3 linked regions of the Homo sapiens genome follow. The gene in region 2 interacts genetically with the main gene of each other region. Each region holds a gene or a part of one and is shown on either strand. Other genes may lie near its edges. The genes, in order: FASN, GGPS1 and ATG7.

Region 1 (4,260 bases), on a different chromosome or scaffold from region 2:
CAGAAGGGAAAAGACGCGGAGTGGCCGCCTGACCCTCAGGCCTGCTCTCAGGAGAGGAAGGAAGCGGGACACCTGCAGAGGGGCCGGGGGCCCCAGTCTCCGGTTCCCCTTCAGCGGCCCGGGCTTGCTGAGCCCTCAAAGTAGGACACGCAGCCAGAGACACCTGTGGCCTCACAAGGCCCGCTTGCCCCCCATGGGGTGCCTGGCCCCGCAAGCGCGAAGCGGTCAGAAAAGGGAGGCCGCGCTTCAGGGCTCAGGCCGCCCAAGGGGCCACGATTCGAGGAATCACTCGGGAGGGAGGGAGCGCGCGAGGGCCGGGCTGAGCCCCCGCCCGTGGGTGCGCGCCTGGAAAACTCGCAGCCTCCGCCCTGGGAAGTGGGGCAGCGGCTCCCTTTGTCCGCACCACACCAGGTGGGTGTCCCGGCCGACTCCGCTCGCCACGTGGCCGCGCCCCTCCCCTCCGCCGAGCTCCAGCGGCCTGGAGTGCGCTCGCCCGTTCGGCCCTGCGCCTCGTCCGGGTCCCCGGGAAGCTGCTAAGGAGGGGCCGTCGGGTGGGTGGACGTCCGTCTCGGGTCTGGGTTCCCCGCCGCACCCGCGAGGAAAACCGGGGATGCGCTGCGATGACCGGCAGTAACCCCGGCCGGGGCGCCCGCGGCCGGGGTCAACGCCCGCACTTGCGCCGCGGCCCGCGAGGCATCCGGGACCGCCCCGCCGCCCGCCCATCACCCTATCGCCTAGCAACGCCCACCCGCGCGCCGCCATTGGGCCGGTGCGAACACCCCTGGCGCCCGATTGGTTGCTGCTGCCGCCGCGCCGCGCAACGCCGCGCCCTCAGCCAGCTCCGCGCGGGCAGCGACGGCGGCGTGGAGTCGGCGGCCGAAGTGCGGGCACGCGGGTCCGTCCGTCCTTCCGCGCGCCTGTGGGTCCGAGCGCCCCGCCGCAGCCGGCTGGACCCCCGGTGTGGCCACGGGGTAGTCCCCAGTGTGGCCCAAGCATTCCCATCCCGCACACGTGGCCCCGGCGGACACGGGGGTCGGGGATGGCTCGGGAGGCGCGCCGCGGGCTCGGTCGCAGCCGCGTGCGCGTCGGGGCCCGCGGGGCGGGAGGCGGAAGTCGGGGGGCGGTGGTTTCCCGCCCGCCCCGCCCCCGGCGCTCCTCAGTCCCAGCCCCACCCCCCCAGGCGCGTTCCCGCGCAGGGTCCCGGCTCGGGCGGCGGCGCGCACGAGCATCACCCCACCGGCGGCGGCGCGCCGGGTCCCGGGGCGCAGCCCCGACGCTCATTGGCCTGGGCGGCGCAGCCAAGCTGTCAGCCCATGTGGCGTGGCCGCCCGGGGATGGCCGCGGTTTAAATAGCGTCGGCGCCGGCCTAGAGGGAGCCAGAGAGACGGCAGCGGCCCCGGCCTCCCTCTCCGCCGCGCTTCAGCCTCCCGCTCCGCCGCGCTCCAGCCTCGCTCTCCGCCGCCCGCACCGCCGCCCGCGCCCTCACCAGGTACGAGCAGCCGGCGCTGGGGCCGGGGCGCGGGTCGTGGTCGGGGCTGGGCCCGGGGTTCCCGGGGTGGCCCGGCTCCTCATCCTCCGCTCTCGGGGCGCGCGTGGCCCGGCCCCGTATCCAGGGGTCGCCTGGGCGGCCTGTCCGGGTCTCGGTGTTCGTGCCCCTTCGGAGGCGCCCGGGGCCCCGCGGAGTAGGTGGGCGGATGGCGGGGGAAGGACGCCGGGGAAAGCCACCAACAGCCGCCTTCGCTTCCCGTGGGGGAGGCCGCGGACCCTGAAGGGCCTGGAGGAGCCCCCGGCTCGGCCTCCCCGCGCCCACAAAGGCGCCGCCGCATCCTCCTCCCGGAGCCGCCCCGGAGCCGAGGCCCAGCCCGAAGGGGACGCCGCGAGGGAGGAACGGGGGGGCGCAGGGGCCGCGCCGGGACCGGCCTCCCCATCACGTGGCGCAGCCCGGCCGAAGCGCAGGGGTCCCGAGCAGCCCCCGCCCGGGGCGAAGGGAGGCCGGGCGCGCCGCGGTGTTCCCACCCCCTGCCTGGCCGTCGACCCCGCGTGAATAGCAAGCGGCGAGGACCCAGCGTGCGGGCCTGGAGCTGGCCCGGGGCAGCCAAGCCTCTGTGAATCGCAGCGGGTGGGAAGGCGGCCGCCTCCCTGCCGGGACGGCCCAAGGGAGGCCGCACTGCCGAGGGGCGGCGCGCGTATCAGGCCCTGGGGCCTCGTGCAAGTGGCCAGACCAGCGCTGGCCTCCGCCCCCTCCCCCCAGGGCCGCACCAGCCCTCATGCTGGAGGAGGAGCCGGCGGCCTGGGCACCCGTTCCGGGTCTTAGGGACCTGGGCTCCAGGGAGGGCCTCCTGTGGTGTGTGGGTTGGTATGGGGAGGCAAGCGTCTGTGGGTTCACCCGCGCAGGTGAAGGGTGCCAGGCAACACCTGCGTGTCCTGGCCAGGAGTGGTTCTCCAGGTTGGACCCTGCTGGAGGGGTTGGACTGGCTGGGTCGGTCCACAGTGGGGCAGGGGCCACCTTTCCCCCAGAGCATAGGCTATCCCCATTTCGTCCCTCCCCAGCCCTGGTGGCTCTTGGGCTGGCCTGGACAGCGGGCCCCCACCCCAACACGGGTGAGCATGGGTGCTGAGTACCCCCCTCTAGGGCTCCCAGCCACCTCCATGCCCCGGCTTTGGGACCCTGCCTCTCCATTTCTTTGATGGCCCTTAGCAGGCTGGCCACCTGAGGCCTTGTCCCCATCTCAGGTGACCCTGCCTGCTCCTCACTGTGAGCCCCCTGGTGCCCTAGGGATGGCCTGGGACAAGCTCCAGGAGCCTTGGAAGGCTGAGACTCAGGCGAGTGGAAGCCGACACAGGCGCAGAAACCAGTAACTGCTGGGGAGGCCAGGGCTGCAGGGCTCCAGTGGGGTACCCCAGCCAATACCCTGAACTGAATGGGTCAGGGCCCAGAGGCGGGCCTGTTCCCAGAGCACGCAGCCCCTCCCAGCGAGAGCGGGGTCAGGGCCCAGGAACTGGCCACATGAGGAAGGGAGCCGCAGGAGCCAGGGCCCGCACGGACCCTCAGGGTGGTGCTTGGCCCCATGGGTGTCCACCTGTTCTGGGTGCCGAGGCTGTTGACGGGGGTGTCGTGGCCGGGATGTGTGGGGCACTCACACCGCCCGCCCTGCAGAGCAGCCATGGAGGAGGTGGTGATTGCCGGCATGTCCGGGAAGCTGCCAGAGTCGGAGAACTTGCAGGAGTTCTGGGACAACCTCATCGGCGGTGTGGACATGGTCACGGACGATGACCGTCGCTGGAAGGCGGGTATGTGGCTGCGGGGCTCCCCGTGCCTGGGGTGTGAAGCTCCATCTCCACCTTTGTCCTCACAGCAGCCTCCCTGCTGTGCTGTGTCCTCACCACCCAGGCACTGGCCTGAGGCCGGTCCCAGCTGCAGAGCCACTGGTCACCCATGGGCGAGGCCTAGCTGCAGCCTCCTTCCTGGACATTGCACCAGAGTGGCCTAGAAAATGCGCCCAGCCTGCCAGGAGGTTCCCTCAACGGCTGCAAGGCCAACAGGAGGCTCCCCCAATGGCTGCAAGGCCGAGGGCTGGCCCAGGCAGGGCCCATCTGCTTGTTACGGAGGAGCCAAGCTCAGAGGATGGGTGACGGGCTGGGGTCTCTCACCCATGCAGGGGGTGCGGGGGGCCAGAGCCCTTCCGGCCAGGCTGCCCCTGCCTGTGTCTGTCCTGAGCTGGGAGGTTGCATACCAGATGTGCTCCGGGAGGCTGGAGCAACTGCCCCACACCCAGTAGGCTCTTCCACAGAGCAGCTCTACCTGACAGGCAAGCTGTGAGTCAGCATGGTAGAGCCGAGGCACCAGCCCGGCAGATGGTCCCCCAGCCTCACTCCCGCCGAGCTCTCTGCTCTGCGGCCCATCTCAGGATTGGGGCTTGGGGCTTGGGGCTTGTGCAGCAGATCTGGTCGTACCAGTCCCCGCTTTGGGGCCATGGTCTTCCCCTCCTGGGGAGCCTGCTCCATTGTTTGGGCCTCCCAGGCATAGCAGAGAGTCCTCAGTTCCACCATGGCCCCTCCAGGGGCCTGCAGCACCCCACAGGGCCCCCACCTCTGGGCAGCTTCCGTCAGAGATTTAAACACCCGCCTGTCCCACAGGGCTCTACGGCCTGCCCCGGCGGTCCGGCAAGCTGAAGGACCTGTCTAGGTTTGATGCCTCCTTCTTCGGAGTCCACCCCAAGCAGGCACACACGATGGACCCTCAGCTGCGGCTGCTGCTGG
Region 2 (3,646 bases):
GTCCCACTTGGCCTCCCAAAGTGCTGGGATAATAAGTCAGCCACTGCACTTGGCCTGTATCACTTAAACACATTTTTTTGAAGATGAAAAACAGAGTCTCAATGTGAAATTTCATTTTTCATTTTACTTTTGAATGTTATATAGAAAACAGTACAATATATGGCTTATTTTTGAGGTACTACAGTTTTAATATTTTTTTCCCCTCTGATGACATGCTAGTGTTTAGCCTGATGCTTTTAAGTTTCCCCCCCTTTTTTTTTTCTGAGACGGGGTCTCCCTTAATCACCCAGGCTGGGGTGCAGTGGTGTGATCTTGGCTTACTGCAGCCTCAACCTCCCAGGCTCCGGTAATCATCCCACCTCAGTCCCCCAGGTAAGCTGGGACTACAAGGGCGTATCACATGCCTGGCTAATTTTTTGTATTTTTAGTAGAGACAGGGTTTTGCCATGTTGCCCAGGCTGGTCTTGAACTCCTGGGCTTAAGCCATCTGCCCACTTCGGTCTCCCAAAGTGCTGGGAGTACAGATGTGAGCCACCGCGCCTGGCTGAGTTCCAAAATAATTTCTAGTACTGAGGCTAATCACAGAGATCTCTCAAAATTAAAAGATTACTGCTTCCTCTTTAAGATCTAAACATTATTGTCTCTCTTTTTGGAGCCCTTCTTCCTCCACTGCCAGCTTCATCTCTCCCTAATCCCACCCTTCACCTCATCTAGGGCCCCACACTAAGGCAAATAAACAAACATAAACATAAGATGACAGCAAGTATGAGAAATTTAAAAATAAAAATAATTTTCTTTACTAATTTCAGAAAATCCTTTTTTTTTTTTGAGACAGTGTCTCACTCTGTTGCCCAGGCTGGAGTGCAGTGGCGTGATCTCGGCTCACTGCAACCTCTGCCTCCTAGGCTCCTGTGACTCCCGTGCCTCAGCTGGGACTACAGGCATGCGCTACCATACTTGGCTAATATTTGTATTTTTAGTAGATACAGGGTTTCACCATGTTGGCCAGGTTGACTTCAGAAAATACTGATAGCATTATTATTATTTATTAGCAAGAGTAATATTACAACAGTATAAATGACCTGGCACACCTCTAAGTTACTTTAGTAACTCTGAAGCTCTCTGTAAAAAAATAAGTGTGTTATGTGCATAGTGCAATGTCATATTTCTTTAGTAGTATCTTTTGAGGTTGTATTCCATCATGGATCAAGAACGTACTTGAATAAAAAGGTGAGGTACCTAGTGATAATTTTAAATATGTTATCTAATGTCTTAAAACATTATTTCCAAGTAATGAGAATTAAAAAAAAGGAAGTCACAGAAGGTGGTCACAGCATAAGTAAGCATTATGGTTAAAATGTAACTGTAGGCAGTCCTTGCTTTGTAAGTAGCAGAGTAAGAGACATTCAAGCGATGCTTGTTAGACTTTTGTCAGCACTGATAACTGGCTTGCTATTAATGCCAGCCCAGTTCCAGCTAGTGTTTGTGAGCGTGTTCTAAAGGATGTCTGGCAGTAAGAGCTGGGTAGAGTGAAAGTGAAACTGTGCCATGTTTCTCACTGGGAGATACTGAAATAAGTTACTAACTGCTGGATAAATGTCACTCAAAAGCAGTCTCTTGGCTTTTTCTTAAACAGTGGGCAACCTTCCCTTTGAATTCTCCATTTCTGTCATTCCCTCATTCTTCTCATGCATTGACATTAGCAGGCGAGTCTCTATTAGGGTCGGCCAAAATAAAAATGACACTAATTATGGTTTCCAAGGTGTAGCACAGGAGCAAGCATTCTTTTGGCTTTTATCCTTCCCAGGCTCATGAAGAACAGAAATGCACATATTACCACAGAGAAGTGCTCATAAAGAAAGGTGTGTACTTTAGCACGGAAATTTAAAAGTGTCTATTGAGACTGAATTGAGAGCATCATTAGAGTTTAGTCACAGTATGGCTAAATAGGTTTTTATGCTTGTCAAATAATTTACCAACTTTTATATTATTTCTTCTTTTTTAAAAAATGTTTAAAACAGAGAGGGGGACTTGTTATGTTGCCCAAGGTGGTCTCAAACTTTTGGTCTCAAGCAATCCTGCCTTGGCTTCCCAAAGTGCTGGGAATACAGGTGTGGGCCACCACACCTGGCCTATATTATGTCTATGAGAAAGAATATTCTAATACAAATGATTTTTTATTACAATAACCCCTGTTTATTATATTCATGAGTTTTTGCTTATTATCATTTCCAGACAAGTTCTTCTTTTTTTTTGAGTCGGAGTCTCATTCTGTTGCCAGGCTGGAGTGCAGTGATGCAATCTCAGCTCACTGCAACCTCTGCCTTCCAGGTTCAGGTGATTCTCCTGCCTCAGCCTCCCGAGTAGCTGGGACTACAGGCATGCGCCACCATGCCCAGCTAACTTTTGTGTTTTTAGTAGAGACGGGGTTTTACCATGTTGGCCAGGCTGGTCTCAACCTCTTGACCTCATGATCCGCCCGCCTTGGCCTCAAAAAGTGCTGGGATTACAGGCGTGAGCCACCACGCCCAGCCTCCAGACAAGTTTTTAAAGAAGCAAAATAAAACAAAAACACACACGTACACGTGAGGTAGGAAGCCATGTCCAAGGTGGCATACCCTTATACAGGAATAAAGTGGGCTATATTTCCAAATACTGTGATTTTAGATACATTATTATTTGGCTCTCAAAGGAACCAGTAGTATATGAAATGCAGTGTATGTGTGAGATACTGGAAAATACAGACATAGAAGGTAAACTTGAACATGTATGGTAAATAAAGTGTTCTACTGTTAAACAAATCTGCGTAACTTCCCCTAATATCTAAACAGTGGGGAATCTGAATGCGTAATATCCGTAAAGAGTACAACCTCCAATGAGATACCAAAATGTTTTAAGTATTTTTATTTTTCAAGATATGTTAAATAATTGGATATGTTTTAAAGGGTGCCTTCAAAAATTACGTTTCTTTTTAAGAGACGGGGTCTCACTATGTTGCCCAAGCTGGAGTGTAGTGGCTATTCACAGGTGTGATCATTGTGCACTATAGCCTTAAACTCCTGGGCTCAAGCCATCCTCCTGCCTCAGCCTCCCAAGTAGGTGGGACAACAGGTATGTATCACTGCACCTGGCAAAAATTACCTTTTAATAAAGAAAAAATTATAATGTTCTATTTATCATTTTTCTCATACGCATCACCTTAAATAGAAAATCTCAACGGCTAGCAAGTCTAACCTTTTCTATTTGCTAACATTTGAACGACCACTACTGCATGAAAATGACCCTATATGGACTGTAAGTGAAGTATTACCTGGTAACTGAAGTAAGTATTTATAGGGTTCTAGAAGAATTCTTTGGACTGTTTCTTGAGTCTTCTCCATTGGATTTAAACTTCAAAGCTAATCTGTCAAAAAGGAGAAACATAAAGATCACATGAAACTAATCATCTTTCAGTGTCAAACTGCAAAGGAATTTGTATTGCAGGGTGTTTGTGAAAAGACACCTAGTCTGGTTTAAAAAGAAGATTCTGTTGCTGGGCACGGTAGTTCACGCCTGTAATCCCAGCACTTTGGGAGGCTGAGGCGGGCGGATAGCTTAAGCCCAGGAGTTCGAGACCAGCCTGGGCAACATGGCAAAACCTTGTCTC
Region 3 (3,646 bases), on a different chromosome or scaffold from region 2:
GTCAACCAGGGAACAAGCAGTCACATCCACAGTCTTCAAACTCTTATCTGTCCTTCTCATTGGTTACTTCCAGGAGCTGTTTTTCTTTTATTTTGGTTTCCTTCTGCTATAATATCCTTCACCTTCACATGCAATCTGGTGTCCATCAGCTTCAGTTTTTGAGAACGGATGCACTGGATACCAGCATTATGGGGTTTGAGAAGCCTACATGGGAGGGACAGTGACAGCTGAGAAAATGTGGGAAAGAGGAGAGAGGAAGCAATAATGCCAGGAAGATGGAGGGCAGTGTGCCTCCTTCTGAGTCCTTTTGTTACCTCCACTGATCAACAGTGTTGCCCATTTCTCTGTTCATCTGAGAGACACCCACCTGGATTTGTCTAAATCACTGTGGAGCCCTATGCCAACCAACAACTAAAATCTATGATGGTTTCCTAAAAGCTGGCTGAGTTATGAAGGCTTGCTTCTAAATAATTACATCTCTGTGGTTTTCATTTCTGGTATGTTTAAAGAATCCTGAGAAACGGGAGAAGTACTTTAAAACTGGGCCAAGCAAAGGCCTGATTTCCGATTTTCAAAATGTTTGATTTTTCTTTGTTTCTTTTCTCTTTTTTTTTTTTTTTTTGAGATGGAGTTTCGCTCTTGTTGCCCAGGTTAGAGTGCAATGGCACGATCTCGGCTCACTGCAACCTCTGCCTCCCACGTTCAAGCAATTCTCCTGCCTCAGCCTCCCAAGTAGCTGGGATTATGGGCGCCCGCCACTACGCCCAGGTAATTTTTTGTATTTTTAGTAGAGATAGGGTTTCACTATATTGGCCAGGCTGGTTTCGAACTCCTGACCTCAGGTGATCCACCTGCCTCAGCCTCCCAAAGTACTGGGATTATAGGCGTGAGCCACCACACCCGGCCTGATTTTTCAAAGATAAGAATAAAGATGGGTTCTAAAGACCACTGGACAGAAGTTTTGCTCCCAGGAAAGGCCCATATGGGCCACTCTAGTCCACTTAGCACCTTTGTACAATCAGAAAATTACACCTCTGCTTCAAGATTTTACTTCCTTTAGTTAGAGAAATGTTGTAATATACTGATTAGATTAGCTCAAGACATGGTAGCCTTCTCTGCCACTGTCATTACAAAAATGCACCCATGATACCTATGATATAAATGGAACCCCCTTTGATGTGGCCTCTTGTGCAGTGCACAGCCTGCATAACTGTATGAGGCAGCCCTAAGTAATCACAAGAGGCCAATATGGTTTCTCTAAGAAAAAGTCATGACAGAGTAACTGCATTCCTACCTTGATCAGGGAAGAATCATAGACGCAGGACATACAGGTCTCAGAAATGTCTCTCACAAGGCTGCTCTAGAAATCCCGGTAGACAAGGTGAAGATACAGGAATTGGATCCTGACATAATTAGAGGGATTAAGAACTGGTAAAATAATCTTATTCAAAGGATCTTGGTTACTGAATTAATTAATGTTAATTAGAAAGGAGCTAATAGCAGTACGTCTTTGGCTTAGTCTCTGGGCCTGTCCAATTTATTTTATTTATCCACATGAATGAATATTTATCAACATTTACTAAGTATTTCATGTGCACTGAACCCTGTGCTGGGGCTAAGAGCAGGGGGAATAGGCAAATAAACATATTCAATAAAGTATTCTTATTACCATATTTTACCAATAACTTGGATAATGATATAGATTTGCTTATCAATTTCATGACAAAAGAAGAAACAGGCAATACAAGTGACTAAAATTCAGGATAAAAAAAGATTCCAACCATCTGGAATGGCAGGCCTATTTTAACAAGATTTGAAATTTCATAGAGGTAAATCTAGGGCCCTAAATCTAAGTTCAAGAAAACAACTGGACAAGGCAGATGGTCTGCTAGACTGGAAAGGGCATAGGTTCATGAGCCAGAGAGACCTGAGTTCAAATCCTGTCTCTGCTACTTTCTAGCCACACCACCTTGGACAAGTCATTCAACTTCTCCGAGTCTGTTTCCTCTTCTGTTAGATGGGGATACCACCTACTGTGCAGAATTAGTGTGAAGATTCAACTAGAAAATGCATACATCTGGCCCATAGGAGACACTCAAAAAGCAGGACTAATATCATATTGTTTACCAATAACATGCCCGGCCAACATGGCGAAATCCCGTCTCTACTAAAAATACAAAAAAAGGGCCGGGCATGGTGGCAGGCGCCTGTAATCCCAGCTACTCGGAAGGCTGAAGCTTGAGAATTGCTTGAACCCGGGAGGCGCAGGTTGCAGTCAGCTGAGATAGCACTACTGCACTCCAGCCTGGGTGACACAGCAAGACTCTGTCTCAAAAAAAAAAAAGAAAAGAAAAGAAATGAAATTGGGGCTTCCATTAGTTATTTCTTCAATAAACAGTTATGTTACATACTTGTCCCTGTGCTACATTTCAGGGTTCAATGGCAAAAAAAAAAAAAACTATGGTCCCCACCTTTAAAGAGCTAACAATTTTGAAGCCAAAACAGACAACAAAACAGAAGAGGAATCGGAGTATAGCAATTTGGAGGTAAAACAAATACAGTATAGCCTGGCGTTTGTACAGAATGTTATAGGAGGAGGGATATCTAAATTAGACTGATGAGGCAACAGTGTTTCCTATAGAAACCCTTAAGCCAAGGTGGGGTTTTTTTGTTTGTTTGCTTTTTATTTTTTGTTTTTTGAGACGGAGTCTTGAGACAGAGTCTTGCTCTGTCACCCAGGCTGGAGGGAGGTGGCTCAATTTCGGCTTCACTGCAACCTCTGCCTCCCGGGTTCAAGCGATTCTCCTGCCTTAGCCTCCTGAGTAGCTGGGATTACAGGCACCCGCCACCATGCCTGGCTAATTTTTGTATTTTTAGTAGAGACAAGGTTTCACTATGTTGGTCAGGTTGGTCTCGAACTCCTGACCTTGTGATCCACCCGCCTCGGCCTCCCAAAGTGCTGGGATTACAGGCGTGAGCCACCACACCCAGCCAAGCCAAGGTTTTAAGAATATCCTATAGAAACCCTTAACCCAAGGTTTTAAGAACATCCAAGTAGATTCTCAACAGGGGCCCTACTGGCATGCTGGATGGAACAATTCTTTTTTGTTTAGAGCTATCCCTGCACACTGCAGAATGTTGAGCATCTCTGGCTCTCTCTCAATAAATGCAGTAATGCCCTCTGGTCAATGTCACAAAACAAAGCAAAATAAAACAGCTCCACAAACTTCTAAACCCACCCCTGATGGTTGAGAAAGGGAGGGTTAGATGACAGCACTAGCCCCATGCAAGGACCCCTGGATGAGGAGGCTAGAGGTAGGGAGTGGGGACTCTCCAGGCAAAGGGAGGAAGCTGACTCAGCTCCACATCATCAGCTGCAGAAACACCCCATGGCCTCTGCATAAGCTTAGAATTTTCTTGGCCACCTCCACATACCCATCATCTAGTGAATTTCTTTGCTCACTTCAAATCACAGCTCAATCATCACTTCTGAGGGAAGCCTTCCCTGACTCCCTCAGCTCTGGATTAGGTCGATCCTCCTGTATTCTAGTCCTCAAAGAGCACCAACTACCTTACCTTCATAGCACGTATGCAGTTATCCTCCTCAGTAGAATAAAAATTCTATGAGAAAGGAACCATGTCAGCT

Evidence for each region.
Region 1: changes in GGPS1 (region 2) and FASN together harm fitness more than expected from each alone (negative genetic interaction), as found in Homo sapiens cells (one large-scale study listed by BioGRID).
Region 3: of GGPS1 (region 2) and ATG7, changing one enhances a phenotype caused by changing the other (phenotypic enhancement), as found in Homo sapiens cells (one large-scale study listed by BioGRID).

The regions. Positions count from the first base shown.
Region 1 is NC_000017.11:82,095,350-82,099,609, reverse strand, and holds the start of FASN (fatty acid synthase), read left to right. Parts: upstream 1-1,373; 5' UTR 1,374-1,489; intron 1,490-3,157; 5' UTR 3,158-3,164; coding exon 3,165-3,291; intron 3,292-4,137; coding exon 4,138-4,260. UniProt on the Homo sapiens protein: Fatty acid synthetase is a multifunctional enzyme that catalyzes the de novo biosynthesis of long-chain saturated fatty acids starting from acetyl-CoA and malonyl-CoA in the presence of NADPH.
Region 2 is NC_000001.11:235,334,999-235,338,644, reverse strand, and holds part of GGPS1 (geranylgeranyl pyrophosphate synthase), read right to left. Parts: intron 3,404-3,646; 5' UTR 3,381-3,403; coding exon 3,311-3,380; intron 1-3,310. UniProt on the Homo sapiens protein: Catalyzes the trans-addition of the three molecules of IPP onto DMAPP to form geranylgeranyl pyrophosphate, an important precursor of carotenoids and geranylated proteins.
Region 3 is NC_000003.12:11,278,751-11,282,396, reverse strand, and holds part of ATG7 (ubiquitin-like modifier-activating enzyme ATG7), read right to left. Parts: exon of another isoform or gene 3,577-3,646; intron 1,404-3,576; 5' UTR 1,295-1,403; intron 228-1,294; exon of another isoform or gene 205-227; 5' UTR 1-204. UniProt on the Homo sapiens protein: E1-like activating enzyme involved in the 2 ubiquitin-like systems required for cytoplasm to vacuole transport (Cvt) and autophagy.